2 separate regions of the Homo sapiens genome follow, and region 2 is linked to region 1. Evidence: fine-mapped expression QTL. Tissue or cell type: esophagus mucosa. Region 1 holds a variant in brackets; the other region holds the start of a gene. All regions are shown on one strand. Distances are from middle to middle.

What was found. PIP is the estimated chance that this variant, and not a neighbour inherited with it, causes the effect.
Region 2: IL18BP starts here. The variant in region 1 is fine-mapped to the expression of IL18BP in esophagus mucosa (GTEx, PIP 0.97).

The regions. Positions count from the first base shown.
Region 1 is chr11:72,021,725-72,024,631 of GRCh38, forward strand. NUMA1 (nuclear mitotic apparatus protein 1) reads right to left here. Exons shown (of 27, transcript NM_006185.4): 5 at 2,550-2,629; 6 at 1,341-1,423; 7 at 615-695. Among named protein-coding and RNA genes, the nearest start is that of NUMA1-AS1, 8.9 kb to the left of the region's middle. The variant C/T (reference allele first, on the strand shown) is at 1,058.
Region 2 is chr11:71,997,287-72,000,193 of GRCh38, forward strand. It overlaps IL18BP (interleukin 18 binding protein), which reads left to right and starts at 1,623. Exons shown (of 6, transcript NM_001039660.2): 1 at 1,623-1,733; 2 at 2,641-2,726. The coding sequence starts at 2,699. It overlaps RNF121 (ring finger protein 121), which reads left to right. Exons shown (of 9, transcript NM_018320.5): 9 at 1-311.

The DNA.
Region 1 (2,907 bases):
CCCCAAGTAGCTAGAACTACAGACACACACTGCCACACCCAGCTCATTTTTTTTAAAAAAAATATTTTTTGTTGAGACAGGGTCTCGCTATGTTACCCAGGCTGATCTTGAACTCCTGGCCTCAAGCAATCCTCCTGTCTCGGCCTCCCAAAGTGCTGGGACTATAGGCGTGAGCCACCACGCCCGGCCAGGAAGCTTTTATATATAACTATGTTGGCCTCTTCCAGATGACCCTACCAGAGGAAAGGATGAGATAAATGAAGTGAAAGTTCTGTGGGGGAAAAAAAACACACACACACAGAAACACATATAGGAACAGAGAATAATTTCTACGTATTATCCTAAAACACATTACAGTTAAACATATGCACATAAAAAAGGACTTGAAAGTACATCCTTTAAAAAGTTAGCAAACTCTGGGAATGAGTTTATCGGCAACTGTTATTTCCTCCTGCATGCTTTTCAACGTTTCCCAGACTTTCTATGATGAATGGCAATAATTGCTATAACTGTATTTTTAAAAAGTCCAGTATCTGCTGTTCAAAGAAAAACAAGTCAGGTGAGGTGAAGCATGGGCTAGGCCTGCTAGGTGGCATGGAGGCACAAGGGCTTACCTGAATTTTATATTCAAACTGTTCCCAGTCCCTGGGACTTTTGGAGCTCATGGTAGAGTGGTATAAGAGCAGCATGGTCATCTAGAAGCCAAACAGGAGGCAGTCACTGAGTGGGGCTGTCTCTCTTCTCAGTGCCCCCATTCTGGGCTGTTCTGGGGACTCTGAGCTATTCCGGTGACTCTTCTAAAAGTCCTGGAATTCAGCAATCCCAGGCCACCATCCTTAACAGCTCCAGGAAACACTTTTTTTTTTTTTTTTTAATTAAGGATAGTGTACACTGTACAAAAAGCTGAGCGCCAAGATTCCTGCATGGCTCAATTCCTGGACTCATGGAACCCTGGGTGTGAAGCTTTAGGTACCCTCTATAGGCCAGCACCCAGAAAGAGCAGAGGGAATGACTTAAGACTGAGCTATAATAAAAATATGGTGATAGCCGAATGAGA[C/T]CTGATTTCTGCCAGGTCTCCACCGAGGCCCACAGTAATGGTCTAGTAAACCATTGTTTGTTTCATAATCTCTGTCATAAGATCATGGGCTCCTAGAATCCTTGGGCTAAATTAGCCTCTGTCTCAAGACAGGTGGCTGCCTGGTTCTACCTCCAACGTACTAGAGCCCCAGAAATAAAGCACCCATCATCTCCCCTTGGGTTAAGAGAAGGCCCTGCAGGGTCCCTCAGGTACCATCACCCCAACCCTGCCCTGCCTCCCCAGTCTGGTATTCCATAGGTACCTTCGCCAGTTCCAGCTCTGATCCCTCTAGCACCTTCTGTGCAGATACCAGGCATTCTGGGGAAGAGGGATGTTTTCGATTTTCTGCAATGACAACAACGTAGAAAACAGGGTGAACTTCCTGGAAACCATACCTGAGATCCCAGAACACTGAAATCTGGGGAGCAGAATGGCTATCTCTGGTGGGGCTATGAGATGTAGGCCTCCTTACTCCTATGGCCTCTTTCCCCTGCCTTACAATTTTCCATCTGAAGTCAGTTCTATCCTGGGTCAATCCAAGGGCTACAGGGATAATGGAAGAAGAAAGCAGCCTCGGAATTCACAGCAACTCTGGGTCATGATGTTGCACTCTCCCACCCACTCACCAACTCTCAGCACCACAGAGGAAGAGCCCAGAGATGCCAGGTCACTTTAGAATCCTGTTCCAACTGAGGTCACAGAGTAAACCTATAGCTGAGTCAGAAAAGGACAACTAGGGATACGTGACTCTTATACTGCCCGAGGGTCTGGGCTCAAATTACTAACACCTTACTTTATCTAAATAAAGCCTCACCTTTCCTATAATTCTCTAGGGGTGGAGATGGCAGCTAGCTCCCCATGTCAAAGACGAGGACTCTGTGGTCTAAGGCTGGACAAGGGGAGGGGAACTGAAAAGCACTGTACTAGAAGCTTTGCATGTGTTCTTATTTAATCCACCCATCCACTTGAAGAGCAGTTATCTCCATATTATAGATAGGGAACCTATGTCCAGAAAGGTCACACAAGCAGTGAGGGGGGTCAAGATCAACCTTAATGTGCCTCTGCCCCTACACCTATCGCCTAAGCAATTAATTCAAAGTTATCTGGGAAAAACAGTTTTTCTTGCAAGGGAAAGAGACTCATTCTCTCTTCTGTCTCCTTGAAGTTCGGGGAAACAGAAACTTAAGGTGCTCAAAGAGTTAAAAGTGACAGGTCCCAAAAAGTAACCTTCTGGCTCCACCTAGATCTCCGAGAAGGGCTCTGGGACTGAAGGGACACTCTTCTTACACCAACTGATGAAGGCATCACAAGACCCAGGGGATCTGAACCAGCTGTTTTCATCTTTGTGTTAAAGAGTGGGGAGCCTTGAAATTTTTCTCCTCCAGACACCCATGAACTAGTTCCTCTGGACTCTCCAATCCCACGAGCTGAGGAAGCAGCTTCTTCATAGCTGGATAAGAAAGGTGCTTACTCTGCAGAAAACTGCACACAAAGTCCAGTCTCTCTGACACCGGCTGCTTCAAGATTTGCTGTCCCTCTTCAGTGCCATGGCTAGAAAAAGAGCAAGTATTAGGACCAGAGTATTCAGCAATCTTTGCCTCCTTGCTGCTGCATTTCATAGTACCTCCCCATTCCTTCCAGTCTTGATCTCTGCTGGATCTGGAAGAGATCCAGATCAGATCCTGGAGGCAGGTGACAGATACCAGGACACCATTTATCCAGATGGAACTGTGTGGTGGGTGGGAAGAGGGGACTTGAGGCATGGGGTTCTTCTGGAAAAGATGGCACTCTGCCACCCTATTTGCAAACATAAAAAAGCTCTGTGGAAA
Region 2 (2,907 bases), 24 kb before region 1:
TGAAGCTGGCAGGGGATTCCCAGTCCAGGGAATATCCCTACATGATTTTTGTCATTCATGGGTCCTCCCTGGGCCTGACAACGGGAGTGGTGGGTGGGTGAGAACAGGTTCTGAGAGGGGGCTTCTAGGAAGGCCCCAGCCCTAGTCCTAGGCGACTTGAATAAAGTGGGAGGTCAAACATGGGCCTTCGGCATTGGGTTTCTAGGGAATATGGCTCAGTAGGGCCTGCCCCTTCAAGGGCAGCAAGAACGAAGCAGGATGTTGTCACTCCCGTCTGAATAAAGCTCCATGAGCTGGGTTGGAAAGCTGAACATTTATCTTGCTTTCTTCTTCCCACCTCTTTCCCTGGGGTCCCCAGGGGTGTCTTGCCTTTGTTAACCCCCATCGGAGACCTGAGGGTCTGGGGGTGGTTGGGCCTGCCTTTCTGCTGTTCCCAGCTGTTCCCCTGCTGACATCCCTAGGAGTGGTGGAATGCCAGGCTCCTGTCCTGTGGCCTGGGGGCCTGGGGCATCATTGGGCCTGCCTTCAGACTGAGGTTGCTCTATGTTCTCACTGCCTGAGGACAGTGTCCCGCCACCACCTGCCTTCCTGAGGACCACACTCAGGCTCGGCTTCTCTTCCCCAGCTGTGGCTTCCCATGGTACCCTGCTGCTTATGCCACCTGTGGGGCTGTTCCCCTCCTCAGAGAGGGGAATGGGGCTGGTCAGAGGACCTAGGGATCACCCTTCCTTTTACTTTTTCCCCCCACCCCCCTGTCAGGCTCAGGTGAGAAGCCGAGGCCAGGCTGTCCAAAGCTCTTTTCATGTGTAACAGTTCTGAGTCCCTTGACCTCCCCCCTTGGCCTGACTCTGGTCTCGGTTCCACTAAGACAGAGTCCTGTCATCTTTCCCTACCATCCCCCACTGGACTGTCTCTCTCAGAAACCCCAGGCAGCCTTGCCTCCTGACCTAACTCCTGGAGATGCTGGTGTTCTTGGGAGGAATTTCTCCTGCATCTTACATGCTAGAAGCCCCTGGGGCAGGAGGTAGGGGGAGGAATTGAGAGGAGGAAAAACATGAACTAGACACCTAGAGAAGAAGGATGTGACTTGTAGTATCCTATGTCTAAATTAGGAATATGAATCTGGTTTTTCTACAAGAAGTTTGAGATCACAGCTGACTGTGTTCCTGATGCATCCACCAAACCCAGTTCCATCTGTGGGCCTCCCTGGCTCTGTCACCAGCCGTTGCACCCTCCCAATCACAGGAGTCACAAACCTCAGACATGCAGCTCCTGTCCACACTTAATATATGCATGCATTGGATCACCCAGCCCTGGTCTTTCTGCCTCCATGGATAACTGCATGACCCTGAGAGAAAACCTCCTTAGATTTAGCATCCTAGGTTCCTCACACGCCTCACCCTGAATCCTGGCCCTCCCGCAGCCCCAGCGCCATTTGTCCCATCAGTGACAAGATTCATATTCTGATGTAGACTCTGTTGCCAGAGCCAGTGTTGAGCCAGTCCGCCTCTTCCCCGGGAAGTGCCTGCCCTTCCCTCCTGTTAGGGTTGGCTCTCGAGCTTGTGTGCCAGTTCCTGGGTTGGCCGTGAGAGTTCTACAGACAAGGAGGAAGTGCTCTCGGTGTATTTCCTGTGGTGGGTTCACACGCAGCTAGACACAGCTAACTTGAGTCTTGGAGCTCCTAGAGGGAAGCTTCTGGAAAGGAAGGCTCTTCAGGACCTCTTAGGAGCCAGGTAGGAGTCTGGGACTACTAGTGAACCTAGACCTGTGGCTCTGGCCAGAGGGGCTAGGATGAGAGACAGAGGGTGTGATGGTGGGTGCTGGGAGATGTAGCCGACCTTGGGGCTGGTGGCTGGGGGAGTGGGTAGCCTGGGAAAGGCCAGGATGTGGACGGACTGGTATGGCATTGAGCCTGAAGTGGTCCAACTTGGGGTTCCCCAGTGCCTAGGAAAGTTGTCCCCTTGAATGTCAGTGTGAAGGTGAAGGAGGAAGCAGATGCCTGTTCATATGGAAACAAAGACCTGGCTGTGAAGAGGGGAGGCGGACACCAAAGTCCTGACACTTGGGCGGGACAGAATTGATCTGTGAGAGACTCATCTAGTTCATACCCTAGGTGACCCTGGGGGTGGCATGGGGGTAGATTAGAGATCCCAGTCTGGTATCCTCTGGAGAGTAGGAGTCCCAGGAGCTGAAGGTTTCTGGCCACTGAACTTTGGCTAAAGCAGAGGTGTCACAGCTGCTCAAGATTCCCTGGTTAAAAAGTGAAAGTGAAATAGAGGGTCGGGGCAGTGCTTTCCCAGAAGGATTGCTCGGCATCCTGCCCTTCCCAGAAGCAGCTCTGGTGCTGAAGAGAGCACTGCCTCCCTGTGTGACTGGGTGAGTCCATATTCTCTCTTTGGGTCTCAATTTTGCCTTCCCTAATGAAGGGGTAAGATTGGACTAGGTAAGCATCTTACAACCATTTGTGGTCATGAGAGCTGGGGTGGGGAAGGATTGTCACTTGACCCCCCCAGCTCTGTTTCTAAGTGCTGAAAGAGCTCCAGGCTATGCTACGGGAGGAGAAGCCAGCTACTGAGGAAAAGCCAGCTACTGAGAAAAAGCGGGAGTGGTTTACCATTCTCCTCCCCCACCTTTCACCAGAGAAGAGGACGTTGTCACAGATAAAGAGCCAGGCTCACCAGCTCCTGACGCATGCATCATGACCATGAGACACAACTGGACACCAGGTAGGCCTTGGGGCTACGCATGGGCAGGCGGGGTAGGGTGAGGTCTATGAACAGAATGGAGCAATGGGCTAACCCGGAGCCTTCACTCCAAGGCAAACCACCCAGCGCACCTGGTGCTGTTGCTTTAAGAACCTGGGCAGATATTGTAGCTCTGGCTCCAGTCTAAAGCTTCTCTGTACTC